Regions from separate parts of the Homo sapiens genome. Here all the other regions are reported to be linked to region 1. Evidence: microRNA targets listed by miRTarBase, many of them from high-throughput screens and not tested one by one. Region 1 holds a microRNA gene; each other region holds the end of a gene's coding sequence.

Region 1 (6,696 bases):
AATTCAAAATGGATTAAAGACCTAAATGTAAGAGCTAAGCCTATAAAGTTCTTGGAAAAAAAACATACACCTAAATTTTTGTGACCCTAACTAGACAGTGGTGTCTATTCAATATAATATGGCATCGAAAGCGCAAGAAACAAAAGAAAACATAGATTAATTGAGCTTCATCCAAATTAACAACTTTTGTGCTTCAAAGGACACCATTGAGAAGTGAAAAGAAAAACCACAGAATGACAAAGTATTTACAAATCATATATCTGTTAAGGTACTAGTATCCAGAATAAAGAACTATTACAACTCAATAATAAAAAGACAACCAATTTAAATATGGGAAAAACCTCTGAAATAGACATTTCTACAAAAAAGACATTTCTCCAAGTACATGAAAAGATGCTCTACCTCATTAGTCATTAGGGAAATGCAAATGAAGTCCACAATGAGATACTACTTCACACCAACTAGAATGGCTAAAATAAAAAGATGGTCATTAACAAGTGTTGACAAGGATGTGGAGAAACTGGATTCCACACACATTACTGGTAGGAATGTAAAATGGTGCAGTGACTTGGAAAACAGTTTGATAGTTCTTCAAAATGTAAAATGTAGGGTTACCACATGACCTAGTAATTGCATTCTTAGGTGTATATCCAAGATAATTGAAAATATATATACACAAAAAAATGTGCACTTGATTGTTTCTGGTGGCCAAGAAGTTAAAACAAGCCAAAATGTGTCTAGGCACTCAAATATCTATAAATTGATGAATAGGTAAACAAAATGTACTATATCAATACAATGGAATATTATTCAGTCATAAAAAGGAAGATAGTATTGATTCATGCTACTATGAACCTTGAAAATATTATGCAAAGAAGCCAGACACAAAAGGCCACATATTGTATAATTGTACAATATGTAATTGTATAATTTCACTTACATGAAATTCTCGAATAGGCAAATCTATTGAGAGCAAATAGATCAGAGGTTGCTGGGAGGTGGGGAGGGGAGCTGGGAGTGACTGCTAATGGATATGGGGTTTCTTTTTGAGGTGATGAAAAGGTTCTGGAATTAGTAGTGATGGTTGCACAACTTTGTGAACATACTGAAAACCTCTGAATTGTGTACTTTAAAATGGTGAATTTTATAATATGTGAATTATATCTTGATTTTTTAAAAAAGAAACACTCCTAGAAAAGCATAAACCACACACCATGATAATCAGCAGCTCCTGGGAGGAAGGGCAAAACTCATTTTGAATATGTGGGATCTGGTGGATTTTAAGAAGATATATATTATATCTAATATCAAAACATGCTCATGCTCAGCCTTCTATGTTGACCTAATAATCAAATGTTTTATTCATTACATACATATTTGGCATTATTAGTCTTTCTTGTGGGACATCATATGATTGTGGTTATAAACAACCCTTAACACATTCTTGGTTTTCTTGATTATTCCTTTAGTATGCTAAGCGTCCCTCATGAAGATTAACAGTCCCTATGCACTTTTTTTATTTATTTATAAATAAAAGGTTACTTTGGAAGCTAGACACCATAATTCGTCCAGAATCTACTAGTGCACTGCTTGGTGATGTCTAACCTGAAAGCACATCTCATAGTCACACAATTTTGCATTGCTACCCACAGTGTGCAAAATTTTTTTGCTCTTGTTAAACGAAAAATGCCTGCTGACTGCAGAGCAAGTCATACTAAAAGAAGAATGAGTGATTTGAGAGAATGAGAGGTAAATCCCTGCCTAAAAGCTGACTTTGTGTCTACCGTGATCCAAAGTTTATACCTAAATCTAGACCTAAGAGAGTTTTTACTTTTTTTGTTTTGTTCCCCAAAGGATTTAAAGCTAGCTTAAAAACAAACAAAAAAAACTTGGTTAGTTTTACTTGTGAAATAACTTCATTTTCCTAAAAACCTCTATCCTCCTTGGACAGCAGTCTTGGTAGTCTTAAGGAGATTTAAAAAAAATTATCAGAATGAGGTTAAGTGCTAACTAATAGTTGTGTTACTAAGATTTCTGCCTTGCCTTGCCTTCCCTGCCTGCCAGTGTTTTTCAGTTTTCAAACTGCTTGAGGGTTTGAGACTCCTAAAAGCAGAATCAGGACGGTGGAGAGTTCTCAGTGGAGCTGGGAATTTCCCCGGGGTCTCTTCCAGGGAAGAACTGCTCGAGGATGAGTCCCACCATCTGTCTCTTAAACCCAAAAAGGTTGTGGCGAATTCTCGCACCAGCCTCCTTTTTCTCTCTACTTTTGACACGGAACGCTGCTCTTCCTTCCCTTGCTGAGTTTCTCTCAAATATAATAGGAAGATTAGGGTTGCTTCTGCTCCCTCCCTGAGAGATCTGTTGAAATATCCAGTATTTGGGTTTTGGTTTGGGGTCCAAATATTTAGTTTTGAGAGATACACTTTACCTTAGAGTTAAGTGCACCTTTTGCCCTGGGTTATGCCAGATCTCACTTTAGACCTTGGCCCTTAACTTACTGGGTCTCTCTTTGTATTTTTTCCTTCTAGTGCATAGATTTACTTTTAACTCCTCAAGGGAGTACTGCCAAGGACTTTGCCTTTGCCTACTGGAAGCCCAGGCAGTGGAGAGAGGCCAAGGCATCTAGTGGCTACTGGACAACATTCCTTGCTTAATGCTGGTCAAAAAATGGTTATAAATTTACTCTGATTTCAAATACATCACAGAAGCTCATCATTTAAAGAAGCCCTAAGAGGAGTCTTTTTGTAAAGTTATGAGTTTTGCTAATAGATTTTGTTTTGAAAAAGCAACATAGAATGCCACCACTTCACTTTTTGATTTGTATTTGTACCTATTGGGTCTTCTTAAAGGAGAGTTCACCTCCATTTAGAAAGAATGAGAACCTTCTGCACAGAGACTTAAAGTGTCAAAATTTTATGCCTTAATTTGGCGTCTGATCAGAATTTTATCTGTACTTGCTCAATTACGTAAGTCATCTTATCTCTTTGGTTTTGGAAAAATGACAGTTGTATACTCTTAGGATGGGATAAGATTTGGGCAACGTTCCTACAAGGGAACCACGAGCATTTCCTTTCCAAAAACTGGTCCAGCCTAGGGCTGGATCAGGGGGTCCTGGGGGGCTCCATTCCAGCCCAGTGAAGGCAGAATATCTTGTCTTGGAAAGACTCTGGGAAGTTAGTTCATTTCAGTCTGTGCTGTGAGCTAGCCAGCAGTGGCTCTGAAATGAACTCAAACTCTAGGGTCACTTCCTCTTGGTCTAACTTCTGGGGATACATATTAAACAAGTCATCCCAGTGGCTAAGCACAGACCCTGGAGGCAGACCACCTGTGTGCAAATCCACGCTCTTCTGACTGCTGGCTGCACAGCACCTGTGAGGGGGACTCAGCTGCTCACCTGGGCAGGAACACATCCATCCTGGCTCTCCTCAGGCTGGTGGTCCAGAGGTGGATGGTGCTGGCTGTGAGGTGTGGCTCGATGTGGCTCAGGGGGGTGTCTTTGTCACGGGGCAGCACCAGGAACAGACTCACTGCACTTCCCAGGTAAGGAAGCTCCAGCACCCCCACCTGATGGCCTGCAGTGTCCTGGAACTGACCTGAGGGTACAGTGGATCAGAGGTCAGCTCTGTCCCAGGAGCCAGGAGAATGAACCAGTGTCGGACCCTGAGAGAGGCTGGCTCAGAGGACTGGAAACAATAAAACCGAGCATCCACCTCACCCTCAGGAGGCGGTTTCAGGCCAAAGACTGTTGGGCGATATGGTCATTTTATAAAAATCCTAGACCTAGAGTCTTTAAGATACCCTCACAGGACCAGAGTTAGAGGTTCTCTAGGACTGGGTATGGGGGGGGGGACGATGGCACATGCAGAACCACATAGAGTAGTGCCCCCTTATCCTTGGCAGATATGCTCCAAGAACCCCAGTAGAGGCCTGAACCTGTGGATGGTAACGAGCCCTGCATATACTATGTTTTCTCGATCTGATGACTGAGATGGCTACTAAGTGACCAACGGGCATACTGTAGACAGCCTGGGGATGCTGGACAAAGGGATGGTTCATATCTCAGGTGGAACAGAGAAGGACGTCAGGAAATTTCACCACACTATTCAGAAGGGCGTGCAGTTTAAAACTTGAGAATTATTTGTGAAATTTTCCATTTAATATTTTCTGATGCGGATAACTGAAACCTCAAAAAAGCAAAATCATGGATAAGGGTACAGGGTACTACTGTACCCGATCTTAAAGGAGCAGCCATTCAATCCCGGCCTATTGTGCCTGCCAGGGTGGCAGTTTGGTCCAAACTCTACTAGTGCAGAAGGAAATGTCAGGCATGAAACTGAGTTTCTCTTCCACATCTGTGTCCTCACTGTCCTGTCAGAGCACACTGTCCCACACTCCTCTCTAAAGTCTCCGGGCACCTTAGTCTTTCCTTCCGCCATGCATGCCCAGTCCAGCAGATGGACCCTGCGGAAACACATCCCGATCCCTTAGGAGCAGGGACCTGGCCTCCTCTCTCCTGCCCTCAGGCCCAGGCTTCCTCTCCCTTTAGACAAACCAGCAGGGGCAGAGCTCACCGTAGTTGACCTCGGTCGTTTGGTGCATCATGGGGACCTGAAGGACGAGGCCATAGGCACAGGTGAAAGGCAGGATCTGTGTGTCTGTGGAGGAGAATCTCTTTCGCCAAGTGCCTTGGAAGGACATGGTGCTCACAAGCACAAGCTGAGCAAATGCTGCACTGACTTGCTCCCACGGCCAGCCACCAGGGCCCTCACTGGGGCCCCCACCTGCAAGCAGGAAAGCAAGGTGGCCATGGGTTAAATGTGCATTGAAACTGAACCGAACCCAGTGTGTGTGCGGACAAGGAGTGCAGAGTTAAAATGCGAAAATGCAGGTCTTTTTGCTTAAGGTGGTCTCTCTCTTCATCTTACAATATCTTTTTAGTCTACTTAAGAATATTTAATTCCCTGTCTCAGCTCCTTGTGCTGTCAGGGACCCAAGGCACCAGGAGCTGCTCTCAACTTTTGGGGACTGTTGAGCGATATGGTCATTTTATAAAAATCCTAGACCTAGAGTCTTTAAGATAACCTCACAGGGCCAGAGTCAGAGGCTCTGTAGGGCTGGGTATGGGGGCGACAATGACAACCCCTGCTGGGGGATGAGGGTGTGGAGAGGGAAATGGAAAGTGAGAACTCAGAAGTCCTGACACCTGGGTGACCAGTCAGGGGAGGTGGGGGCAGTGAGTCATCTCTGGAGTTGGGTTGGTAGAGTATTTATTAAAATATGTTCATTGCAAATTGATATGTGTTTATAACCAGCTGTTGCTGAAGACCCTGCTTTTTATTCTTTTCTGAACAGGTTGGGATGCTGCTCCTGGTTCTGTTTGGGGCCATTTCCTAGGAATTATTAGACATTCCCTCCCCAGGCAGACCCTTGGAAGGAGTATGTGCTGTGATGGGAGATCCTGCACATTGTCGCCCCCAGTCCCCACCCTGCCCCGCTGCTGAGCTGAATCTCTCACTGAGCCTTTGCTTAGAAAACAATATTCAAGGTATGGTCTTTGTAGGGCTGCAGTTAAAATTTCATGCAGTGTCAGAAAGAGGAGCTGGCAGACCACCCTTAAGGGGATAGTTTTTGTCCCAGCTGTTTATTTGTTTAATATGCACACACTTTGTGATAGGCTCTGTTCTAAGTGCTTTAGCAAATCCTCACCGACTCCTCCTAACAGTTCTATTATTATTCCCTATTTCACAGGTGAGGGAACTGAGGCTCAGAGAAGTTGGGCAAGGTCACATACTTATGAGGGGTGAAGCCACCATCCACCCAGTTACCCAATGCAATGTGGATTGCATTGAAATAGAACCCTAGCAGCTCCATGGAAAGCTTGGATTTGAACCCAAGCAGCCTGGCTCTGGACTCTGTGCTCTGAGCAACTGAGCCAACTGCCCCTTTTTCTTAGAGGACAATCAGCCTGCACTGGGAGCTGCTTCTCTGGCCTTACGCCCTGGCAGCACAAGGATGTGAGCAGGGAATTAAACATATTTAAGTAAATTGAAAAGACATGGTAAAATAAAAGAGCATGAGAGAGAACTTTATCACAAAAGATGTTAATTTTTGCATTTAATTCTGCCATCCTTGTCCACACACTTACTGTTTTCCATTCAGTCGTAGTATACATATCACTTCCTATTCTGCTTTTTTTTTTTTTTTTTTTTTTTTGAGATGAAATCTCACTGTTGCCCAAGCTGGAGTGCAGTGACGCAGTCTCAGCTCACTGCAACCTCTGCCTCCTGGGTTCAAGCGATTCTCCTGCCTCAGCCTCCCCGAGTAGCTGGGATTACAGGCACATGCCACCATGCCTGGCTAATTTTTTGTATTTTTAGTAGAGACGGGGTTTCACCATGTTGGCCAGGCTAGTCTCAAACTCCTGACCTCGTGATCTGCCCGCCTTGGCATCCCAATCCTATTTTGCTTTTTAACCAACACTGGGTCTTGAATGTTCTCCACATTGCTATGAAACTTTTGAAATGATCAAGGATGCTGGAGCCGGACCACCTGGGTTAGAATCCTGGCCTGTGGACCCTGGGCAGGAGGCTGAGCCTTCTGTGCCTCAGTTTCTCCATTTATAGAATGGGGAGAGTAATAGCGCCTACCCCTTAGGATTATTGTGAGGGTGAACTGAGACAATCAACTGGGAGCAGT
Region 2 (6,696 bases), not on the chromosome of region 1:
GAGACGGGCAGTGGCCTGCCTGCCTACAGCTTCGTAGAGAGTTCTCAGCATGCTTACTTTTTTTTTTTGAGATGGAGTCTTGCTCTGTCGCCCAGGCTGGAGTGCAGTGGCGCGATCTTGGCCCACTGCAGCTTCCATCTCCTGGGTTCAAGTGGTTCTCCTGCCTCAGCCTCCCGAGTAGCTGGGACTACAGGCAGCCACCACCACGCCCAGATAATTTTTGTATTTTTAGTAGAGATGGGGCTTCACCATGTTGGCCAGGGTGGTCTCGAACTCCTGGCTTCAGGTGATCCACCCGCCTTGGCCTCTCAAAGTGTTGGGATTACAGGTGTGAGCCACCATGCCTGGCCCAGTGTTCTTTTCATGAAAATAAAATTTCTTTTTTTATATAGCATATGAGCTCATAACTGGCACTGTATAGCACCTGAGCATGTTTTGATTTGGTCTTTCTTGTTGAGGGGCCTTGTTACGTTATACCCTGGTGTCTAGACTTTGGCCCAAAACCTTTGAGATGGAGAGCCGGTGTCTGTGGTACTGTTTGCAATCTCTGGTTCTACACTCAGGGTTCATTCATGTAGATGCAAATACAGATGGTATCATAACTTCCAACCTCTCTGTTCCTCATCACAGCTGTTCAGTCTCGCTTGAAGACAGATTACGGAAGGACGAGGCCAAATCCAGATTTTGTGGTGTGAAAATTTACCCTGGTGTGTTATCACTACCAGGGGATCTGACCTCAGCCAGGAGCAGTGAGAGCCTCCTCTCCCCAGCCATGCTGAGCGCTGGCCTAGGACTGCTGATGCTGGTGGCAGTGGTTGAATTTCTCATCGGTTTAATTGGAAATGGAAGCCTGGTGGTCTGGAGTTTTAGAGAATGGATCAGAAAATTCAACTGGTCCTCATATAACCTCATTATCCTGGGCCTGGCTGGCTGCCGATTTCTCCTGCAGTGGCTGATCATTTTGGACTTAAGCTTGTTTCCACTTTTCCAGAGCAGCCGTTGGCTTCGCTATCTTAGTATCTTCTGGGTCCTGGTAAGCCAGGCCAGCTTATGGTTTGCCACCTTCCTCAGTGTCTTCTATTGCAAGAAGATCACGACCTTCGATCGCCCGGCCTACTTGTGGCTGAAGCAGAGGGCCTATAACCTGAGTCTCTGGTGCCTTCTGGGCTACTTTATAATCAATTTGTTACTTACAGTCCAAATTGGCTTAACATTCTATCATCCTCCCCAAGGAAACAGCAGCATTCGGTATCCCTTTGAAAGCTGGCAGTACCTGTATGCATTTCAGCTCAATTCAGGAAGTTATTTGCCTTTAGTGGTGTTTCTTGTTTCCTCTGGGATGCTGATTGTCTCTTTGTATACACACCACAAGAAGATGAAGGTCCATTCAGCTGGTAGGAGGGATGTCCGGGCCAAGGCTCACATCACTGCGCTGAAGTCCTTGGGCTGCTTCCTCTTACTTCACCTGGTTTATATCATGGCCAGCCCCTTCTCCATCACCTCCAAGACTTATCCTCCTGATCTCACCAGTGTCTTCATCTGGGAGACACTCATGGCAGCCTATCCTTCTCTTCATTCTCTCATATTGATCATGGGGATTCCTAGGGTGAAGCAGACTTGTCAGAAGATCCTGTGGAAGACAGTGTGTGCTCGGAGATGCTGGGGCCCATGATCTGGGAAGAAAAGTGTGGTCAGGACACTCTTGGGACGCTCTTTTGATAGCTCTCTATAAGGGAGCTGCTTTCCATGTCTTTTAAGATTTTCCTTCTTTTACACCAATGTAATGAATGAGCAACAGAAAATACGGATCAAAACCCAATACTATGTCTCTTTTGGCAATGCAAAGTATATTTTTTTAATGTACCACAGAAATCAAGGCTAGGGCTTCATGTTTGGTAAAAGAGGTATTATATTCTCTCTACATATAGCAAATAATTCATATATAAATCGTGTTTTTCCTATTATAAAAAGCAGAGATTAGGAACAATTCTGTCTACATATAGCAAAAATTCATATATAAATTGTGTTTTTCCTAGTATAGAAAACAGAGATTAGGAACAATTATAGTGATCATTAATTTTTATGAAATTTTACCTATACATTAATGTTAGTCATTTTAGATATGCTTTTTAAAAAGTATCAAATAATTTCCCCATTTCTCTGCTGTAATGTATCTAATTATCTAACTGAAAAACAAAACAAAACATCTTTATATTTCTGGAAGTTTCTTTGAGCCCTAGCCTTGGCTTTCAGAATAAAAATCAGGCTCACGCCTGTAATCCCAGCGCTTTGGGAGGCTGAGGCGGGCGGATCACGAGGTCAAGAGATCAAGACCAAATTAGCCGGGCGCGGTGGCGGGCGCCTGTAGTCCCAGCTACTCGGGAGGCTGAGGCAGGAGAATGGCGTGAACCCGGGAAGCGGAGCTTGCAGTGAGCCGAGATTGCGCCACTGCAGTCCGCAGTCCGGCCTGGGCGACAGAGCGGGACTCCGTCTCAAAAAAAAAAAAAAAAAGAGATCAAGACCATCCTGGCTAACATGATTAAACCCCATCTCTACTAAAAATACAAAAAATTAGCCTGGTGTGTTGGCGGGCACCTGTAGTCCCAGCTACTCGGGAGGCTGAGGCGGGAGAATGGCATGAACCCAGGAGGTGGAGATGGCAGTGAGCCGAGACCATGCCACTGCACTCCAGCCTGGGCAACAGAGCGAGATGCCGTCTCAAAAAAAAAAAAAAAAGCAGAATAAAAGTCAGTTGGATGCCATGATCTGTATTAAGCTCCAAGGCCCAGGAACTGAAGTGGGGCAATATGAGAATGAGGGGCACTTGATTCTGCTTAAAAAAAATAGACTGCCTTTGAAGAGGTCACGCTGTCTGCTCTTCAGTCATTTAGCCATTTTGCCTGTCTACTGTGGCCTCACCACAGCCTACAGTCAGAGTTCTAGTGTGCCAGGTCTTTGAGTTGGAGGGAGATCATTTAGAATGCCAGATCCATGGCAGTAGGAACTGTGTCTGTTTTTATTTTCTCCCACGTCTCTGTGACTAGAACACTGCCTATTGCATAATAAACGCTTAATAAATATTTTGTAAATGACTGAATAGCTGTGCTAACTGGTTTTACAATGCCTCCTTTGTATTGTAGGTAGAGAAACTGATGCCCAGAGAGGGGCAGTGGCCTGCCCTGGGTTTCATAGAGAGCCTGTGGCAGTGCTGGGACTAGAGCTGTTTCTTGACTCCTGGTGCAGGGCTCTTTCCTTTACAACATGCTACTTTCCTAATGTCCTTCCCTCCTTGGAACCCCATGCCTCTTTCTACAGACCCTTCTACACAACTTATTCTCTTCCTTCTTTCTAGCCTTCTTTGTTTCAGTTCCAGGGGGATCTGAAATCCAAAGGACAACACTTGGCATTCTTAAATATTTTTTTTTCACTTCCTATGGATCACACTAATCTACTTTCATTAATCTATTCTCTCAAACATATCTTTTTCTTACCTGAATCTGAGAATTGAGGTACATGCTAGGCACATGTGGATATTAGTCATCACACAGGGGGAGATTGGTTCCACTGTCACTGTGAGTTGTGTGAGGTCAAGTACCATATTTTATGTCCTGGGAAGGATCATATTCATTCTTTTTAAATAGAAAGGTGCTTCTGCTTGGTTATATTTTTGTTAGTAGGATGAATTTTCATTATACCATTTCTATTTTTTTTACAGATGTCCTTTGTGACCAATTGTTGTAATAGTGACAATAGTATTTAACATTTGTATTGGGCTTTACATTTTACCAGACAATCTCATATATAGTCCATTATCTCATTTGATTTTAATAGCAACTCTATGCAGTAACCAATTTTATCCCCAATTCACAGGTGACAAAACTCAGGCTGGAGTGATGGTTTGCCCAGGATCATGAACTTGTAAATAATGCAGATGGAGCAGACCCAAATTTTTTGACTCCGAGTCTTGTGCTCTTTCCAGTAAATCCTAAGTATCTCATTGTTCATACTTGTAAGACTTCAAACTAGGATTAGCCTGTGGAACTTCCCTCAAGTTTATGAGTATTTTTACACACATGCAATAAGCAACTAATCTTTCAAATTTGGTATTGATGGGATGCCTGGGTGCTAAGATCCAAAATCACAACAGATCAAAGTTTATGATCTGCTTTTCTTAGTGACAAGGTATGGAATCAACCTAAGTGTCCATCAACACATGAACAGATAAGGAAAATGTAGTGTATGCATGTATGTGTATCTGTTTCATTTTCTACTTTTCTGTACTGTTCAAATTGTTTTTAGCCATGCTCAAATATCACATTTGAACATTTGAACAGATAAAAAAATGTAGTATACATATGTATGTGTATATATGTATACACACACACAATGGAATATTATTCAGCTTTAAAAAAGAAGGAAATCTTGTCATTTGAAAAAATGTGGATGAACCAGGAGGACCATTATGCTAACTGAAATAAGCCACATACAGAAAGACAAATACTGTAAGATCTCACAGATGTGTGGAATTTCAAAAAGCCAAACTCACAGAAGCAGAGTAGGATGGTGGTTGCCAGGGCCTGGGACGTGGGGGAAATAGGGAGATGTTTGGTGTCTGTTAGGAAGAATGAATAAGCTCTGGAGAGCTAATGTACAGCATAGTGACTATAGTTAATAGAACCGTATTATATACTTGAAATTTGTGAAGAGAGTAGATGTTAAATGTTTTCACTAACAACAACAACAAAGATAATTGTGAGGTGGTGGATATATTAACTTGATTGTGGTACTCATTTCACAGTGTATACATATGTCAAAACATCATGTTGCATACTGTAGATATATACCATTTTTGTCAATCATTCCTCAATAAAGCAGGAAAAATTATTGCATTTTCCACATCACCTTTTGGGATTTGATTTCCTTCTTTTTCTGTACACAATTTACCTTATGATGCGTATGAGACTGCTTTGTGTTTTAGCAAAGAAAACAAATGGGAAGGCAAATATATACTCTTGAATTGATTCCTATGTAATTGAATCTTTTATAATTTGCATTCTTAGAGTTGCAGCTGGATCCATGTGTGCGTGTGTGTGTGTGTGTGTGTGTGTGTGTAGATGTTAATGGCCTTACATTTAATTATGTGATATGCTCTGTGGTGGTGTAGCCGAGAGGAGACGTGAAATGTTAAAAATGTGATATGTGAGCATGGCTAAAAACGATTTGAACAGGACAGAAAGGTAGAAAATGAACAGCAACGTTTTTCCCTCCCACCTTCTATTATTAGTCCCACTGCCTGGATATAATGGTATCTTATCACTTGTGTTAGTTCTTTTAGTGGTTATTTTTTACGACTCTGAATGGTAAGATTTTGGCTCTCTTACTTGTTTTATCAGCTTTAAACTGTAGCCTTTGAGTTCCATTCATCAAGGTTTGGGGATTATCTCATTTTGCCCCTAATCCATTTTCCTCTCCTAAATTGATTAGTTTTATTTTGTTGTTCTAACAGTCATTACTTTTACAATTGTAAGTAATATATTTTCTACACTGCTTTTTTGAACCATGCCTTATGACAGTATCCACAGAGTCCCGATTATGTAGGAGGAAGAAATTAGTGCTTCACCAGTCCTGCACTTCTCCCATATCCCAACTCCTGTCACCTGTGGTATCAGTTATAAACAACTTCATATGACTTCAGGAGAAAGTACACTTATCAAAAGGAAATTGGCTAGATTATAGAACCAGGGAGAAGGCTGGAGAGTCAACCTCAGAATGGGAACCAAGAGGGGTTAAATAAACAAGAACACAATCAAGTCACACTACAGGGACTGATGCTGGCACCACCTCTCCTGTTCAGCTGTTAACATTGTGTTCTTGACACTGCCACTGCCTCTGAGACTGTGTCTCTTCGAGCCATCCTGGGTGGGATTTTTGGCTGGCTGATTCTAGATCACAGGCCTAACCTAGCTGACAGGCCCTGGGGTGAGGAAAAGCCTGGTTTCCCTTTGGCTTCTGAAATATGCACTTTTAAATTAGGTGAAATAAATTATTCCACCATTGAATTAAGCAGCAGAATGGGTACAGCTCCTGGTGTGGAATTGATGCACTGGAAGGCCAGCTCTAGAACTCTCGCAGGAGATATGGCAAAGTAATAAAGTGATGGGAAATTTAAAAGCAAAGCAATATGGCACACAGAAATAAAAGGACACTCATAGGTGTGATTGGAGCCCCAGAAGGAGATGGAAAAAATAAGCACAAGGAATGAAATATTTGAAGAATTAATGACCAAGAATTGCATTAACGATGAAAAAAGACTAAAAGGGCTCAAGGGGTGTCAAAGAAGACAGATAAAGTGGGAGGAATTCGTCACACTTAAACACATTGTAGAGATTTAAGAATATCGAAGACAGGCAATTTTACAAAATTTTGAAAGAACAGATCAAGAATCAGATTGACATTTCTCAGGAGAATACAGAACAAGATTTTTCATGACATTTTATTCTAGTAAATATTTTGTTATTTTCAAGTAACACCAAGAAGAAAAGTTTAGAAATATTTTTCTGGCTAGGAACATATTTTATATTAATTATAAATGGAGAGTTAATTCTAAAAATGTCAGTGAAGGCTCAGTGGTTGATTATCATAAGGTTAGTGAGCAAATTCTGAAATATTTGAACAATCAAAGAAAATCTTGAAACT
Region 3 (6,696 bases), not on the chromosome of region 1:
AAAATAAAATAAAATAGAAACCAAGTAAAAAAAATGTTAACAAAGCCCATGAATTATCAATTCACAGAAAAGGAAATAACTCACAAAAGGGTGCTCATTCTCACTCACTGGGTAAACATATGAAATAATTTTTCACTTATGATATTTGCAAAAATCAAAACTGCTTTGGCTTATAATACATGATTCTCATAGGAATGTAGGAAGGCAGTGACTCTCAGTCATTTGCTCATGTAACTTCCTGTATTTTTGATGTGCATTAGGTCAACCTCTGTTGGGGGCTCTATAGCAATATCTATCCAAACTACACACTTATCGATCCAAACTTCCACTTCTAGGAATTTATCTGATAGATAAGCTTGCATTTGTATGAGATGATCCATGTGAAAGGTTTCTGTTTTTCGTTGTGTGTGTGTCTTTTTTTTTTTTAGACAAAGTCTCACTCTATTGCCCAGGCTTGAGTGCAGTGGTGCAATCTCAGCTCGCTGCAGCCTCTGCCTCCCAGGTTCAAGTGATCCTCCTGCCTCAATCTCCCAAGTAGCTGAGATTACAAGCATGTGCCACCACACCCAGCTAATTTTTGTATTTTTAGTAGAGACAAGGTTTTACCATGTTGGCCAGGCTGGTCTCAAACTCCTGACCTCAAGTGATCCACCCGCCTCAGCCTCCTAAAGTGCTGGGATTACAGGCGTGAGCCACTGCAACCGGCCTGTAAAAGGTTTCTTATAGCACTGATTACTATTGCACAAGGTTAGAAACTGTGCAGATGTTCACTGCCAGGGAACTTCCATACAAGGGAATACTGCACAGTTTGTAAAAGGAAAAAGAAGCAATTCTCTCTATACTAATATGGAAAGATCTCCAAGATACACTTTACACAGAAAAAGCAAGATGCAGAGGGACGTGTATAGAATGCTATTTTTAGTTTAAACAAGAGGAAAAATAAGAATATATTTTAATTTACTTTTTTTTAGTTCTCAATTGGGTTAGTTTACATTTTTAAACTTCAACAAGCAATTTTGTAACACTTACTGTACATCAGGCACTTTATAAGTATTAATTCAATTCTTCTAACCTCAGGAAATAGGTATTATCATTACCCTCATTTTACATTAGTAGATTAGGCCACTACAAACAGAGAGGTTATGTAAGTAGTCCAACATCACACTGCTAGTCACATGGGGGAGCCAGCATTGAAACCCATACCCTCTGACTCCACAGGTTATGTTCCTAAGCATCATATTAAGTGGACTAAGAAGTTAATACATGGAGGGAGGGAGGACAGGGTGAATGAGAGAGTTGCGTGACTTTATGTGTATGTAGTTTTGAACGATGTAAATGTGTTACCTATTGAAAAAATATTTAGAAAAAATGTGTATGACTTTGCTCAAGTTACTTTCCATGTGAGAGGCAGACATCTCAAGATAAGTAATAGTAGTAGCTTGTAGTGAGGGTTTACCAAAGTCTTATCTATAGTCCTCTGAGACTTTAGGGAGAGAATCCTTATTTAACCTCATGAGATAGATTCCCCACCCCCGACCTGAGCTGAGCAGCTAAAGCTTGGGGTGCTGCAGGCTGGGGAGGCTGAGCGCACCAGCGCCCATGACCTACAGCTCTCCCCTTCGCAGACCCCTTCTTCAGGAGCGCCCAGCCCTGGATCGCAGCCCTGGCAGGGACCCTGCCTATCTTGCTGCTGCTTCTCGCCGGAGCCAGTTACTTCTTGTGGAGACAACAGAAGGAAATAACTGCTCTGTCCAGTGAGATAGAAAGTGAGCAAGAGATGAAAGAAATGGGATATGCTGCAACAGAGCGGGAAATAAGCCTAAGAGGTATCCAACGCAAGCAGAGAATCTAAGCTCTTGGCTTGCATGCCCCAGCCTGAAAACCTCACCTCTCTCCCCTACCCTGGCACTGCATCATGTTTAAGGTTTATTTCCCGAAACACCAACCTCACCCATAACAGTTCATCTTTTTTTTTTTTTTTTTTTTTTTTTGGTTATTTTCCAGAGAGCCTCCAGGAGGAACTCAGTAAGTTACCATTCCCCCAGAGATCCAGACATGTCTTCCTATCCTCGCTTTGAGCACCTTGATGACTCTTCCCTGTTCATTCCATTGCAGAGAGGAAAAAAATCCAGTACTTGACTCGTGAGTGGCTTTGACATTTTCTCTGAATTCAAATCTGTTACTCTCTCTCTGCTTCATTATTTTCCAGCCCATAAGTCATAGCCCAGGGTTGAAAAGTGGTCTTGGATCCCTTTACCCAGAAAAAGAAAACAAGTGTGGCTCTTTGGAGAAACCACCCAGTGCTTTTTCTCTCTAGAAAAAAAAAAAAAAAAAAAAGAGGTCTTCAATCTCTTTGTACTAGGGGCTACAGACCCTTAAGCTCTAAAAAGCACTGAGGAATATCCAGGGGTACACTTCAAAAGGAAGAGGGAAGAGAAGGATGAGGTGCATTTTCTATGGCAGGAAACTTACTTGTTGTTTCCCATAATCTAGAGGCTGTTGAAAGGAAAACAAGAATGGAAGATTTAAGAAATAAGAAAATCAGAAAAGAGAGAGGGAGGGAGAAAAGTGTGTCTAATAAAGAGGAGTAGCTACAGTGGCTCAGTTGGTACAGATAGATCATAACTGCTTTCAAAAACTAGTCCCTGAAATTGCTCATTAAATTTCCCAAATTCTTTTTAGAGCAAGGTACGAAATGATACAGATTGAGAAGGATGAATCTTGTACTCCTAGGCATACACATATAGACATGGTGACACCTATGCCCAGGTACACATTCAAAACAGATGAGCTGGACCCCATTGGGAAGGAACTCTCACAGTGCCTGCCCTGCCACTAGCGTTCAACCGATGTTCCCAGACTTGATATTAAGAAGAGGTGAAGAAAGAATTGTACCTGAAGATGGAGACCATGGGGAAGGGTGGGATGGTAAAAAAAAAAAAAAAAAAAAAAAAAAAAAAAAAAAAAAAGACTAGATGGATGCAAAAAGAAGGGGAAGGGGCCAACACAGAAAAGGCAGAGTTCTGGTGACACCTCTACCTTTCTTTCATTGTAGGTGGAGAGGAGTCTTCGTCCGATACCAATAAGTCAGCCTGATGCTCTGTAAGTTTGCTGGGTCACATGCCCTGAATATTTCAACTTTTTCTCCACTGTGACCCGTGGATGTTCTCAGCTGGATTAATTAGATCTAATCTAAAGACTCAATTTCTGTGTGGTGGGGGTTCACCTCCGCTTTTCTGGAGCCTCTGAGAAACTCCTGATCCTGCACACCCCCTTGTAAAGCCTGGCCATGCATCCTGCACCCCCCATGACACAGGGAGCCAAGCCTGACATTTTTGAGAAGGTGCCACCTCTGATCCATCAGAGCTGTAGAGGAGGGAAGCTGGACCCTGGAAGAGACTCTAAAGAAAAGGAGAGAAAACATGTAGTGAGAGGAGAATGGAGTGGGAAAAGTACAAAAATACTGACCTTTTTCTTATCTGTGTCTCCTTCCTTTCAGAATGGAAAAATGGCCCTCTTCAAGCCTGGTGAGTAAATCACTGCATGTTCCCTGGACCAACAACCTGAGGGACTATATTCCTTTTTCCTTTTTTCTTCTCCAACTCTTGTGATTTGGAGCAGAAAAGTTCCCTTGACTTCCTTCGTGGGTAGGAAGACGCATAAAGGGTGGAGGTGAAGGGAAGGAGACACACACTGAGTAATACTGCAGGGAGAGTGAGGATGGAAATGCCAAGGAGAGGAGGTGATGCCTGCCCAAAGAACTTTGTCCTTCCCAGGCTTCTCATGCCACCTACTGCCTGTATCTCCTCAAAGGATTTAATGCTTCCAAGCTTTGGCCTCCACATTTTTAGATGATGATTGCAATCTGTTTTTCATGGGGGTTGAGGTGAAGACTGAAGGAATAATGAACATGCTTGGCAGAAACCTAGCAAGAAATAGATGGTGAGCTCAAACTGGGTAGTTGGACAAGGTTTCCAGAAAGAAGGGTTAAGGGAAAGCAACAAGGAAAAGTGCAGTGCCCCCATGGTTCCCAACAGTGGGGAGCTGTCTCCACCCCTAGCCTGGGAGGGCTAAAAAGGGGAGGCAATTACTGGAACCCAGAGAAAGAGGTAGCTTAACGAGGGAGCTTCCTGAGAAGAGTCCTCGGGCCTTGTTAGAGCACCACCAGCTGCTGCTGGCAGGGAGGAAGCAGGAAATTAAACGGTGTGTATCTCCTTTCTTTCTCCTTCTAATCTTCTATCAGGGCCTCCCATTGGCCAAACACAGCAGCAAACCAGAGGACAAGGGAGCCCAGTGGCACTGTCCATAGAGGACAGATTCCTGGGGTCCAGAAGAGGGTGGAGAAAGCTGAAGGCTGGAGAGTGAATCTAGGGCATATAAGGCCCCACACAGAGCCCAGCACAGAGACGGCCTTGCAGCTATCAGGAAGATGAGGAGCTTCCTTCATGGCCTGCTGTGGGCTGAGTAAATAATATGATTGCCTTCTACAGCGCTAGAGATTCATATGTTTATCCCCATTTTTCAGGTGAGGAAATGCTTCAGATGAGGCTCCACCTTGTTAAATAAATTGGATGTATGGAAAAATAGACTGCAGAAAAGGGGAACTCATTTAGCTCACGAGTGGTCGAGTGAAGATTGAAAATTAACCTCTGAGGGCCAGCACAGCAGCTCATGCCTGTAATCCTAGCACTTTGGAAGGCTGAGGAGGGCGGATCACAAGGTCAGGAGATCAAGACCATCCTGGCTAACACGGTGAAACCCCGTCTCTACTAAAAATACAAAAAATAAAAAATTAGCCGGGCATGGTGACGGGCACCTGTAGTCCCAGCTACTCGGGAGGCTGAGGCAGGAGAATGGCATGAACCCGGAAGGCAGAGCTTGCAGTGAGCCGAGATCACGCCACTGCACTCCAGCCTGGGAGACAGAGCGAGACTCTGTCTCAAGAAAAAAAAAAAAAAAAAAAAAGAAAAGAAAATTAACCTCTGAGTATAAAGCATCAGTGGGCAGAATCAATGTGGGGAGGGAAACAACAAAAATGTAGAAAGAGGATCCTTGTTGCTTCTTGGGGCCGCATCAGGGTATTGGGTTAGGCAGATACTGACCTTACTTTCATTTCCCCTCTGGTCACTAGACCCCTGGGGCTTTCACCAATGACATTGATGAGAGAATCACATTCAGGGCAGGCTAGGGACACGGGGTTCTGGAAGGACCTCCTCAGCATGGCCCAAGCCTTGCATGCTGTGGCTCTTAAATCCAGGAAAAATGGCTGACCCCATGGACACCTCCTCAAACTCTCTGCAGCAGATGTAATTCTGTATCCAGACATGGCAAATGCCATCCTCCTTGTTTCTGAGGACCAGAGGAGTGTACAGCGTGCTGAGGAGCCCCATGACCTACCAGACAACCCTGAGAGATTTGAATGGCGTTACTGTGTGCTTGGCTGTGAAAGCTTCATGTCAGAGAGACACTACTGGGAGGTGGAAGTGGGGGACAGAAAAGAGTGGCATATTGGGGTATGTAGTAAGAACGTGGAGAGGAAAAAAGTTTGGGTCAAAATGACACCGGAGAACGGATACTGGACTATGGGCCTGACTGATGGGAATAAGTATCGGGCTCTCACTGAGCCCAGAACCAACCTGAAACTTCCTGAGCCTCCTAGGAAAGTGGGGGTCATCCTGGACTATGAGACTGGACATATCTCGTTCTACAATGCCACGGATGGATCTCATATCTACACATTTCTGCACGCCTCTTCCTCTGAGCCTCTGTATCCTGTATTCAGAATTTTGACCTTGGAGCCCACTGCCCTGACCGTTTGCCCAATACCAAAAGTAGAGAGTTCCCCCGATCCCGACCTAGTGCCTGATCATTCCCTGGAGATACCACTGACCCCAGGCTTAGCTAATGAAAGTGGGGAGCCTCAGGCTGAAGTAACATCTCTGCTTCTCCCTGCCCAGCCTGGAGCTAAGGGTCTCACCCTCCACAACAGCCAGTCAGAACCATAAAGCTACAGGCACACACTGAAGCACTTTACTGATATTCATTCAATTATTCCATAGGACAGTTGTTTGAGTTTGGTGCCACCTTATTGGCCCCTTTATACAGATAAGGAAACTGGGGTGTAGAAAAGTGTATTGACTTTACAAAGCAGACAGGAATAGTGAACAACAGAGCTGGGATCTGAACAACAATGACTAACATTAATGGAGAATTTAAAACGTTCTGAGTGCTGTGTTATGAGCTTTGGTGGGTGTCACTCCTTTAATCCTCACAACACCCTGTCAGGTAGTCTCATTTGGCAAGTATGGAAGCAGAGGCAGGGCAACATTAAGTAGCTTACATAACTCACACGGTAATTTGTGCAGTTGGGAGATGTTCAGCTTCAGTCCCTGGCCAATTGCCCGTTCTTTTCCAGCCTGATTTTTCCTGCATGGGAAGAGCCCACATGTAGCCCTGAGGTTCCCTTCCCAGGACAGCTCCAGGATCGAGATCACTGTGAGTGGTTGTGGAGTTAAGACCCCTATGGACTCCTTCCCAGCTGATTATCAGAGCCTTAGACCCAGCACTCCTTGGATTGGCTCTGCAGAGTGTCTTGGTTGAGAGAATAACGTTGCAGTTCCCACAGGGCATGTGACTTTGAAAGAGACTAGAGGCCACACTCAGTTAATAATGGGGCACAGATGTGTTCCCACCCAA
Region 4 (5,348 bases), not on the chromosome of region 1:
TAGAGGTGGCACGACCCTCTAGAGACCCCTGCTCTGGCCGTGCCACTTTCAAGAGCAAGTTTTCCGAGCCAGGACTCTTTCCAGTAGTTCTGTGAGAAAAGCACTGTTTGCTAGCACTGACAGCTACCAAAAACCTTACAGCTGCTTCTGAGGGGAAGAGCATGATGACAGTGTGACTCTAATCTGCCTCCTCCCAAACAGATGAAGGAGAGCAGGCTGACATGTGACTTAGCTATTCAGGGGCTAAAGAGCTAGCACATGTTTTCTTTAGGCCTCCACTTTTTGCTGTACCTTTTGTTGTCAGGGGATTCTGCCAGCTGCCACCTTCCCTGAAAAGCCAAACTGGTGGAAATAAGAGGGAAAATCATCTATCTCTGATAAAAGAAAGAGAAAGAAAGAGAGAGAGACTGCTAAACAATTGTACATACAACAGAATCTTAAAATACGCTACACATTTAACTAGTGCTTCAGAGCTTAAAAACTGCCTTTATGTATTTTATCACAATCACGCCTCACAGCAACCCGGTAAGGTAGACAGAGCCATCTTGGTCCTGTCCTGCAGATGAGGAACATGTTCTTGATGGCAGGTGAGTGGCAAGACTAGAGTCCAGATCTTAGAAACACAGAATCCTAGAGTTAGAAGTTACCCTGACACAATAATCCAAGGCATCCTTTTCCCAGAGCATGAATCACCTTATAAAATCCCTGAGATTTCTTATGGCCCCTGCTTGAACTCTTCCAGTGATGAGTAACTCTCACCACCCATGAGCAATCCAGTATCAATACTGAGCTAAAATCCTTCTTATAACTTTCAGCCTATTCAATTCAATTTCTGCCCACAAGAACTACACCAAATTAAGTCAAATTCTAATTTACATTCTTTCTAAAATTTGAAGATATTACACTTGCCCTTTTCTTGCAGATAAAACATTTTCAGTTCTTTCAACTACTTATCATGTGATTACCTAGAACCATGCCTAAAATATATAGTAAATAGTGTTTATTGAATCGTTTCTCTTGCCCTTGGTACTATGTCCTGATCCTCCTGTCGAGGGGCTCCTTCCCTTACCTCGAGTGTCCTCAATTTTGTAATCTGTTCATCATTTGCTTATTTAAATAATAGGGAGAAAAGAAACAGTATAGTTTTCAGAACAATGTGAAACAAAATAAAAATTGTCCAAATGTCAGACAGCTTTCAATTTATTTTGTGATAATGGATTCATTATTTCACTCAACAGACTACCTCGGAGCTGCATTTCTAGAAGATAAGTCCCTCATTCATTGAGCATCTCCTGTAATAAGACACAGAATGGATCCCTGTGGAGAGTGGCCATCGAATTAAACAGAAAAATTCTAGTGAAGGGAGGGATGATTTGGGGTCTGGCTGGAAGACCCTGCATGAATACATTATCCTGCAGCATAGTTTTGCCTATTAAGAGAAGCAGCACCCATTTTTTGTTCAATTTTGGGTACCACCAGACTAAAAAACATATGTCTCTTCAAAAAGGAGCTCCAGAGGAAACTCTGACTATTTTCAGTTGGTCTTAATTTGGATTGGTGTGAGAGACAAGCACTGGTGTCAATGTGATGAGGCTGTGTCATTCCTAATGATGCAGAATTCAGCCAGCTTCATGCCTCTCATATAAGTGCTGTGCCGGGATGAATAGCAATGAGCTTAACATTTTGATAACTAAAGAGCCAGGAAATAGATGGTGAATGGTGCCCTACTTTATGAAAGAAATAATAGTAAATTGCTCCCAATTAAGGGAATATGCTTATTCATTAGAGTAATAACCTTATAGCAAGTTTGATGGTAAATAAGTCAAATCAAACATTCAAAACACAATTTCAGAAAAAGAACTGAGGCTAAATTATCCCATGATCACAGACTACATTGAAAACTATCAGAAGTTTGGCTAATTTGATCATGTTTTCAAGTTGTTCTGAAAACCTCTATGGCCTGAAAAGTAAACGACATAAGTTTCCTTTCTCTCTATTGCTTAAACAAAGAAACATGAAAAACTATTCTCCCTATATTGCAAATTCCGGTATTTTAGAAAGTGAGCCTCATCAGCAGTTTTCTCATCTTGAGTTTTAGAAAAGGCTGAATTTGGAAAGAGGCATTTCATACGATAGTATGTATTAAGGGTTGAGGGCTTGGGGACTGAGTTGTGATCTCCTCTCTCATAAAATATCCGCACTGTAGGCCGGGCGCAGTGGCTCACGCCCGTAATCCCAGCACTTTGGGAGCCCGAGGCGGGCGGATCACCACGTCAGGAGATGGAGACCATCCTGGCTAACACGGTGAAACCCTGTCTCTACTAAAAATAGAAAAAATTAGCCAGGCACGGTGGCGGGCGCCTATAGTCCCAGCTACTCGGGAGGCTGAGGCAGGAGAATGGCGGTGAACCCGGGAGGCGGAGCTTGCAGTGAGCCGAGATCGCGCCACTGCGCTGCAGCCTGGGTGACAAAGCGAGACTCCGTCTCAAACAAAAAAAAAAAAAAAAAGAAAGAAAAAGAAAAGGAAAAGGAAAAAAAAATCTGCACTGTAATCACATGGTAGGTGATAGATTCTTCACAGGCATAGAATGGAGGGAACTGCTAGTTAAACAAGACCCACCACCACAAGGGCTGAGGAGAGTCCCAAGGTGCCAGAGAAATTGTAGTGAAATATCACAGAGAGTTCTTGCTGAAAGACACTCAGATGTCCTGGGGCTTGTGTCTACTGTACTGCGGACTGACTACTCCTCTTTTCTTCCTTTGAAAAACTTATCCTTGCCTTCTCAGATCAATCCAAGGGGGTTCCTGGGGACAGCTGGTCCAACACGCTCAAATGAAGAAAGTAAGGTTTAGTGAGGTATGGTTTGCAAAAAGTCACATATTTGATTAGTAGCAAAGCCAGACATAGAAGCCAGGACTTTGGACTCCCAGTCCTGGCCTCTTTCTCATTTACCATGCTGCCTGCCTCCTGATGTTTGGAAAACATTCCTAAAGCTGGGGATTTTACACCTTCACTTGAATGGTTTTCTTTATAGGCAGAGGGAAAAGTACTGATCTTTGGAAGAGTTAGGATTAAAAACTAATAAGATGGGGGTACAGGGTGTTTAGGAGGAAGAATAGATACAGCAAGGCAAAAAAGGTGGGAAAAAGAAAAAAGGAGGTAATAGGAGAGATAAATATATGAACAATAAAATGGAAGAAAACAAGAGACAAGTGAAGAGGGAGAAATGAACTGAGAAGACATAGAAAATGGACACTTAAGAGCAGCAAACTGGCCAGGCATGGTGGCTCATGCCTGTAATCCTAACACTTCGGGAGACCAAGGCAGGAGGATTATTTGAGCCCAGGAGTTCGAGAACAACCTGGGCAACATGGGGAGAGTTTGTCTCTACAAAAAAATTTAAAAATTAAACATTATCCAGGCACAGCGACATGTGCCTGTAATCCCTGTTACTTGGGAGGCTGGGATGGGAGGATCGCTTGAGCTTTTGGAGGTAGAGATTGCAGTGAGCCGACATCATGCCACTGCACTCCATCCTGAGTGACAGAGTGAGACCCTGTCTCAAGAAAGAAAAGGAAAAAAGAACAGAACATCAAACTGAGGCAATCAAGGACTGAGAAGAAATTGGAGAAGAAAGAAGAGAAAAATAGAACCAAGAAAAGAGAAGAAAACCAGGAAGAACAACATGAGAAAACAGAGAGCTGCTGTGAGTCGAAGAGAGAGTGTATAGGTGGATGGGCAAGTTGGACCAAGAGGGATCCATAGGACATAAGGAGCATGCGTGGATGCAGGATGAACGAGTAGGAAGGCGAACAGCTGCACAGAGGGAAAGGAGTGATCAGAGTTGTCAATGCACACTTCGGGGAACTCAACAAAGTGATCTGGGGTGTTAGATTGATCCTTGGAATTACCTCAGAATGAGCTGAACTATGGTTCTAAGGATGCTGGTAACACAGGAGATTGTAAATTCCATATCTACAAAACTAAATCTCTAACCTTTCATCAGTCATCTCTATGGCCTCTTTCATCATTTATATAACCTGTTTTTCAAAATAGACAAACATTCACTCATTCATTTCATGTACTCTGGAGGCCTTCCTCACTGGGCTAGTTTCTCAGGTAATTTATTGGTGCTTTCTGAAGAACCATGGGAGGCGCCTTCCAAATTGGGAACAATGGGATTTTCCTCAGGAAATTCAGGCCTACATCATGGTTGGGTGGAGTTACAGAGAAAAACATCACAGTATTATGAGGGCAGCCAGGGAAACATGAGAGCAATTTCCCAGAACCACTGGGCACAGCCTTTCTTGTAGACTCTCTGGGAGGGAAATTCTGTGAGGGAAATCCTGCACGCACTGTTAGGCCCTCCAGGATTTATGCACATCCTACCTCCCACAGGTGTGGGTGACTGGGGAAAGCCAGGCTGCCATATACCTATCTGATCATAGTAACATTTAATCATAGCAGTATCTAGTCCTCTGTCTGTGTGATCAACAAACACATTCTCCACTGGGTGAGAGGAAAGCAAGATGAGGACATTTTCCTCCCCGAGCTATTAGCTCATAATCACAATCCTCTTTAAAATATGCAGTTTTAACAGAGATGCCTGCCCAGTCTAGGCTAAATAACAACTGCTTTCCAGGACGGGCTCTGTATCAGGAAAGACAAGCAATCAGAATTAGAACCCTGCCACATTCTTTTTCTTTTAAAATGCATGCCACAAATAAAAGCCCCTTAAGCCCCAGCTGTGGCCTCAGCTATTAGAATAAACTTGCAAAAAAACAGCAATCTACCTTCCTGCTCAACGTATCAACCAGCCCACTTTCTAAAATGCAATCAAGTTAATAACGAATGAGTTTTTAAAATCCCTTCATGCCTTGCATGCACCCGGAGTGAGTTGCTATCTTCAAAGTTGGGTTAATGCCACTTTCTGTGAGTCCTCTAAGAGGAAATGTTCCACGAATGATTTTTTTTGCCCTAACAAGCTGAGTTAAGGCCAGCCATTGACAGGAATGTGCAGCGGCTGCCTTCTGAGTACTTACATAGGATCCTGAGCCGGTGGCTGTGCCCATGTTAGTTCTCCCTTCACCTCATGTACTCCCCATCACTCCTATAATCCATAAACGATTCTGATCCTGACACCTCCTCAAAATCCTCCAGCACCAGACTGGTGGAGTCCTCACCCAGTATGCCACTGTCTGGCCTGGACAACCTGGCCCGGGTAGGAGGTGCAGGAAAGTTGGTGGTAGCTGGAGGGGTAGAACAAGGGGGTGTTTGCTGGAGAGAGGTGGGTGTGGCCTGAGGAGGGGACACAGCTGGCTCACAGACTTCCTCATCACCCTTCTCG
Region 5 (6,696 bases), not on the chromosome of region 1:
TGAAGGGCCTGAATAATAAATACAATTCCTAAACTCTCAAATTCCTATGGATTTGTGCTCCCACATCCTTTATTACACCATGTATACCTTTATTACACCATGTCACAATCCAGCACAATCCTGGCTACCTGCATGATATCTCCCCAACCAGACCGGGAAAAGATCACTAACTCCAGACTTCTTTTATGTATTCTTTCAATCAACAAATATGTATTGAGTTCCCCCCTTGTGCCGTACACTAACTTAGATCTCAGGCCAAACGCATTTTTTTAGTACAGATATTTCAGTTGAAAAAAATTGCTAATAGTTGACTCCAAGTGACTAAATGTGCAGGTAAGCATCATCTACGATCAACACATTGACTTGCATAAAATGTTTCTTAAAGTGGCTGGGAGTGCTTCAGAAGTTAGCAGACCACTTAGGTGTGGTTTGTATAACCTGATACATATGAGAAACTTACAAATTTAGTAAATCTATAAATGAATGACTTATTGTTCTATTAGTTAACAGGGAAAGGATTTACCATGAAAAACAGATGTCAGCTTGTCTGTGTTTGTCACCAACTCCAAAATAGAGGATTTAAAAATGCATGAGGTTTAATCTAGAGAAAAAAAATGAAACAAGACCAGAAAGCAATTAATTTCTACGTTTTCGTCATAAAGCCTGGTTGTGTGAAAAGCAGTGCCCTTGATGAAGAGTTAAGTCCAAGTCCAGGAAAGGAGGCTATATCCTGTGCTGCAGTAGTGACTGTGCTCTATCTGCTGCATGGTTGCACACAGACGACCAAACCAGGGAAGTCAGGAGATCTTTGCACTTGCACTTGCATCTGGTGTCTCATTCATTCTTTCTAAGGCCTCCTGCTTGGAGGTACGGATGGGAGAGGTAGGAAGAGAAGAGAATCAGAGAGACAGAGCGGGGCAGAGGGAGGAAAATGACGAATGGCCAGCACTTACTGAGCATGGACAGATGGGCATGTGCTATGTAAGAAACCTAAAATTCTCTTCGTTTTTTTGGGTATCTGGTTTTTCCAGTTATAACTATTCACTACATCTGCTTTGGCAATGAGGGGAAAAAATTTAATTTCATATTTATATGATAGTTCATTTTCCCCCAGTAAAAAGTTAAATCTAACTTCTTAGCTCAAGAAACCTATATGTAATATATACATAAAATAATCTTAATTCAAAATCAGGATTTAACATGGTAAATATCCACGTGATGCAATTGCCTAAGGTTCATGGGGAACTGTGAAGTCTGCCCCTAATCACAGTTAGTGCCTTCCAATCAGAGTGCATTGTGCTTTCATATTGTCCACAATGTTTGAAAAGGTTGGCTATTTTCAACATCACTTTTCTGACAAGAGGTGGCACTAGGCTGCAGAAAGAAGACACTACACACATAAGCGTGCTCAGACAGCTCACTGTTAGACAACCTGGTAGATAAGGCTAAAAGCTGGAATTACTTTTCAACCTAAAGATTTTTTACTTTCATTTCCTTTGGGGGATCCTGGATACTGGAGTAAAGATGAAAGGGGCCAGAATTACTTTTAAAGAACTCTTGAAAGTATTGGCCATCTGTCGACCTTTTCAAAGCAGTTATTCATAAAAGAGAATCTTTAAAACTACAGAGCTGTCAGTTATGGTGAACTCTGCAGCTGTTCTAAGATGTAAAATTATATACATATATAAATGCGAAAGTGTGTGTCTGGGTAAGAGAAAGAGACTTGTCTGCCCTGATACCTTACCCTACCCCTTCTTTGTCTGAATTTCTTCTTTTCGTCCGGTTTGGAGTTATCAATGGGAAGTTGGAGCAGCGGTAGCTGTCCAGTCCTCCTTCCCCCGGACCAAAGGTGGAAGCCCCTTTGGTGTCACACTGAATGTACACACGATCTTCCAATCTTTTGAAACCAGCTGTATCCCAGGCTTTTGGGTTTTGAGACCTCCTGTGGCAGAGACTGTAAACTGACCGCCTCGAAACTCATTGTCCATTTCCCCTTCTTAGTAACTGCATTCTGAGTTTATTTGGCAAAGCCACGCACACCACTAGCAAGACGATTTCCTAGTCTCTCTTGCAGCTAGATGTGGCCAAGTGACCAGATTTTGACCAAAGAGAGTAATGTGGAAGGGATGAATTATACTTCTGTGGGGTCCTTAATAGAGAGTGAGTGGGGTTTTTATTCCTTTATTCTTTTTCCAACATGGAATGCAAATGTAATGACTGAAGCCACAGCAGCCATTATGGACTACAAAGTGATCTTGAGAAGGAAACCAAAATGATTGAAGCAGCATGGGTCATTCATATGCGGGTCATTGATACGTGGGTCATTGATATGTGGGTCATTGATACACGGGCCAGTGATACATTCTCTACCACCCTGGATCACTAACTCCAGACTTCTTTTACATAAGAGGTAAATAAGCCTCTATTTGTATAAAACACTCGTCCCATACAACTGAACATAATCTCAACTGATACACTTAGGAAATCATTGAAGGAATAAGCATTCTGAAATATTAAGTATTTGGTGTACTAAATACAAAAGGAGACATACCTCTAATGCAATTAACAATGCCAAGACTTTATCTTTTTAAGGGCTCTGAGTGACCCTGTATATAGAGGTCACTTGCGATGGCTTGTCATTACAGTACCAAACAAACCCATAGGCTCATTAAGCATTTGTAAGGGTGCCGTCCTTAAAGGTGCTGGAAGGCTCAGAAATCATGTTTTATACTAAATAATTGCCAAAGTCAAATAATGACATTATACATACTTCCCAGTTTTAGAGTTTTCAGTTGTGGGGATGTAAAAATGTTTGTTAAAGGAATTGTTTTCAACTAGTAAAACATCATTTTTGAGTGCCTAGTGTGCCAAGCACTGTGCTAAACACTTACATCATCTCATTTAACCTTTACAAGCACATACAATTATTCTTCTCACTTTACAGATGGGTAAAGGGATACATAACTTGTCCAAGGTCACATGGCAAAGCTGGAAATCAAATGAAGTTCAGTCAGATTTCAATTCTGTGTTACAAAACACCAAACTAAAGCATCTTCCATGTTTATTTTTTTCTAGATAGTTTTGAGCATCCTTAATGCCTTTAAATTCTCCATTGAGTTACGTTAGAATGGTTGTCCTTGTTTCAGTGAATTAGAAGGCTGAAATCCAGAGAGGGCTTGTTCATCTTTGAGGTAAGATCAGGACATTTAGTTATGGCATCAAGTTTGACAGAGAGAAAGCCAAAGCTATGGCTCTGCAAACCAGCTCGGTCCCTTCCTTGAGTATAATTTTGTAGTCTAGCTCTTTTTTTTTTTTTTTTTTTCATAGAGATGGGGTCTCGCTAAATTGCCCAGGTTGGTCTCGAATTCCTGGCCCTGGCAATCCTCTCACCTCAGCCTTCCAAAGTGCTCAGATTACAGACATGAGCCACTGTGCCTAGCTTAGCTCTTTTTTTTTTTTTTTTTTTTGAGATGGAGTCTTGCACTGTCACCCAGGCTGGAGTGCAGTGGCACGATCTCAGCTCACTGCAACCTCCACCTCCCAGGTTCAAGTGATTCTCCTTGCCTCAGCCTCCCAAGTAGCTGGGATTACAGGCGCCCGCCACCGTGCCCGGATAATTTTTTGTATTTTTAGTAGAGACAGGGTTTCACTATGTTGGCCAGGCTGATCTTGAACTCCTGACCTTGTGATCCACCCGCCTCGGCCTCCCAAAGTGCTGGGATTACAGGCATGAGCCACCACGCCCGGCCATCTAGATTAGTTCTTTACATTGAAAGTAACATCCAGGGTCACTGATATTCTGAGAAAATTAGAACCACCTTTGAGTTAAGACTTCTAGAAAGACACATACGTTGTTATATTTTAATTGGAATCAGACATTTAATGGCATAAAAACATTGCATATATGGCTTTGCTGTTCCGAATGTCATGAACTTAAAATCCAAATATGACATAAGCAGTTTTAAGACTTATTTTGGCCAGCCTCCCCAATCCCAAAGGAGATTTAAAAGTAATAATGTAAAAAAGTTAAGGTCAAGGTGTTTTAAAATCAACATCTCAGCTAATGACTAACCCTTTGTTTCCTGGGGACTTCTGCTCTACTGTGAAAACTGCTGAGCTTAACCCGCTGTTGAACAACTGGTTAGTTATTAGTTCCCTGGGTGATTGTCCCTGAAGTTAAGCCATGCTCTGGGGACACATGAGGCACTTTAATTGGGGTAGTTACTTTTTCCAGGTTGGGTACAATGTTTGGCTCTCAAAAGCAAGGTAAACAGTTTACAGTCAAAAGGAATGCTCTGTGATTGTGTGCCTTTGGGATCAAGGGTTGAGATCTTAGAGTATTCTCATAAACATCTGTACCAGGTGCTCAAAGATGTTTGAGGGTTGTCAAGCAAGCTGTTCAACTTCTGCATTTTCTGTGGATATGGGCACAATGACCCACTCAGATTTTTCTCCTAGTGTCCTGAATGACAGCTCATCTACACAGAGTGAAACTCCAGATATGTGACAAGCAGCATGGGACAGATGCTGACAATCAGAACAGATGCTGGATGTAAACAACTGGTAAGGCTGCACTGGTGCATGCTGGCAGAATCACCTGCTATGCATCCAGGGAGCAAATGCATCTGCATGCTCAGCATGACACCAGCTTACCTCCCTGTGCAAATCCCCTCCCCTAATCAGTCTCATCCAAATCTTCTCCTGCAGTAGCAGCTTCTAAAGCTGCAAGGGCCTCCGCCACCGCTGCATCCTCGTCCACAATCTCCCCATCCCCATCTCCATCGGAGCCATGGGTATCCTCCTGCCTGTTTCCTGAGTCAACCACAGGCATGGCATGAACAGGACCCTTCTCATTAAAGCAGATGCTTAGAACTTCTGTTTCCACATCCTCATTCAATGAATCCCAGCTTCTCCTCACAGAGAAGGGCGTATTCAAACCATGCTCCCCCACTGGGGGCTGAATTCCCTCTAGGGATTCATCCTCAGTATGGTTCTTGAAAACACAGTCCTTTTCATTATGATCAACGTTGTCTCCAGCTGGGCCCCAATGCTGAAGGTAATCTGGGGCTGGTATCTGGAAGACATGGTCTTGTACTTCCAAGGCAAAACTTTCTGCCTCAGAAGGAGCTCTGGAGTCTCCATTTCTCATGACTTGGGTCCCTTCTGAGGCCAGCAGCACACAGTCCTGTTTCCTGGTGCCCCCTCCTTCCAGGAAGGGTTGAGTTGGGGGAACAGTATTTGCAGTACTGGCCCAGGAGCCCCTGTCATCCTGGGTGGGGCTGGAATTCCCAGTGGGCTGTGGAGTGGCAGCAGGGCCGATGCCGTTGACACCGCAGGCATGGTGTTCCCCTCCAGCGTCCCCCTGTGGGAGCGGCCCTTGGTGAGGCCAGCAGGGCTCCCATGGATCAGCTGTCCTGCTGCTGCTCTCAGTCTTCTTTGAGCCCTGCCTCTGAGGGTCATTTTTCTGCACCAAGACTTCACTGCTCCATTTGCCTTTTAATTTATCAGTGTCGTCTTCATCTAGCTTGCAGCTGTTGACTTCATTGACATAGCCAGGAGAGGGCACTTGAACTGGATCAAAGAGATAGCTTCAGGAAAGACAATGAAAACCAGTCAGGTCTGCTCCATCATTAATGCTTTTTACCACAGGCCCTGCTTCTTTCTACGATTCCTGCTAATTTAATTTCTGTGATTACTTTTCAACCTAGATAAGTATGTCTAAATCAAATAGATATAGTTGGTATAAAAATGTTTGGTGGCTCACGCCTGTAATCTCAGCAATTTGGGTGGCCAAGGCGGGTGGATCACTTGAGGTCAGGAGTTCGAGACCAGCCTGACCGACATGGTGAAACCCCATCTTTACTAAAAATACAAAAATTAGCTGGGTGAGGTGGTAGGCACCTGTAATCCCAGCTACTCGGGAGGCTGAGATAGGAGAATCGCTTGAACCTGGGAGGCGGAGGCTGCAGTGAGCTGAGATCACGCCCCTGCACTCCAGCCTGGATGACAGAGCGAGACAGTCTTGAAAAAGATAAACAAGGTTCTGCCTGAAATACTCTTAAGAAGAGAGCCAAAAGGAGGAAGGAGGGGTAAGGGGTGAAGTAAAATACAAAGTGGTTCATAGAATTTTAAAATAAAAAACAAATAAAACAAATGTCCACTAACAGGGCCATAAGGAGTATATCCTCTCAGTGGAATATTATGCAGTCACTAAAATGATAAATATGAAGTCTGTAGTCACAGGAATGATACTTACAATACATAGTTTTTGAATAAAGCCAAACATCACAGTATGATTACAGTGGAATACAGCTTATTTATATATAGGTCTAGAATAGAACTATGATTAAAAAGACAGTATATTTGTTAAGAAAGCAAGATCATCAGTTACCCTTTTTCTTAGTTAGAAGTTTATGTTCACGTTACTCACAATTTTCTGAAATGCAATGTGGACAAAATTAAAAGCACATATGTGATTGGGGTGATTTATTTTCAGCGATGCCATTTCAGGCATCCTCAGAAACCCAGACCAAATTCAGCCTCAGAAAATGATGGTGTTCCCAACATGCTTTGAGAAGTGAGCAAAAAAAGTTAAAAAAATCTAGGGCACATGTTCTTTTAAATGATATTATAACAATTCCAAACTCTTAATGTGTTGGCAATGTTGATCATGCCCCAAGCTGGATAAATGCACTG

Evidence for each region. The annotated mature microRNA hsa-miR-5693 reads GCAGUGGCUCUGAAAUGAACUC and lies in region 1 at 3,209-3,230, shown strand. An mRNA with a match to its seed (bases 2 to 7 or 8) in the 3' UTR can be bound and repressed. Matches are read on the target gene's strand: a 7mer-m8 pairs with bases 2 to 8, a 7mer-A1 pairs with bases 2 to 7 and ends in A, and an 8mer does both.
Region 2: miRTarBase lists TAS2R5 as a target of hsa-miR-5693. The part of its 3' UTR that is shown has no 7-base or 8-base seed match.
Region 3: miRTarBase lists BTN3A2 as a target of hsa-miR-5693. Seed matches in the 3' UTR shown: 7mer-m8 at 4,899-4,905 and 7mer-A1 at 5,883-5,889.
Region 4: the mRNA of POPDC2 is a reported target of hsa-miR-5693. The part of its 3' UTR that is shown has no 7-base or 8-base seed match.
Region 5: the mRNA of PGCKA1 is a reported target of hsa-miR-5693. Seed matches in the 3' UTR shown: 7mer-m8 at 3,504-3,510.

The regions. Positions count from the first base shown.
Region 1 is chr13:51,345,110-51,351,805 of GRCh38, reverse strand. MIR5693 (microRNA 5693) reads left to right here and starts at 3,167; the gene lies at 3,167-3,239. SERPINE3 (serpin family E member 3) reads right to left here. Exons shown (of 10, transcript NM_001386375.1): 5 at 4,572-4,781; 6 at 3,395-3,593. It also overlaps a transcript of INTS6 not described here.
Region 2 is chr7:141,789,590-141,796,285 of GRCh38, forward strand. TAS2R5 (taste 2 receptor member 5) reads left to right here and starts at 628. Exons shown (of 1, transcript NM_018980.3): 1 at 628-1,778. The coding sequence starts at 773. The coding sequence ends at 1,672.
Region 3 is chr6:26,371,272-26,377,967 of GRCh38, forward strand. It overlaps BTN3A2 (butyrophilin subfamily 3 member A2), which reads left to right. Exons shown (of 11, transcript NM_007047.5): 6 at 1,626-1,826; 7 at 2,005-2,025; 8 at 2,116-2,142; 9 at 3,056-3,102; 10 at 3,500-3,527; 11 at 4,526-6,696. The coding sequence ends at 3,096. Among named protein-coding and RNA genes, the nearest start is that of BTN2A2, 8.5 kb to the right of the region's middle.
Region 4 is chr3:119,643,076-119,648,423 of GRCh38, forward strand. POPDC2 (popeye domain cAMP effector 2) reads right to left here. Exons shown (of 4, transcript NM_001369919.2): 3 at 5,044-5,348. The coding sequence ends at 5,087. Among named protein-coding and RNA genes, the nearest start is that of POPDC2, 15 kb to the right of the region's middle.
Region 5 is chr4:37,588,980-37,595,675 of GRCh38, reverse strand. PGCKA1 (PDCD10 and GCKIII kinases associated 1) reads right to left here. Exons shown (of 4, transcript NM_001104629.2): 4 at 2,166-5,588. The coding sequence ends at 4,676. It also overlaps a transcript of RELL1 not described here. Among named protein-coding and RNA genes, the nearest start is that of RELL1, 94 kb to the left of the region's middle. RefSeq lists enhancers at 4,839-5,339, 5,340-5,840.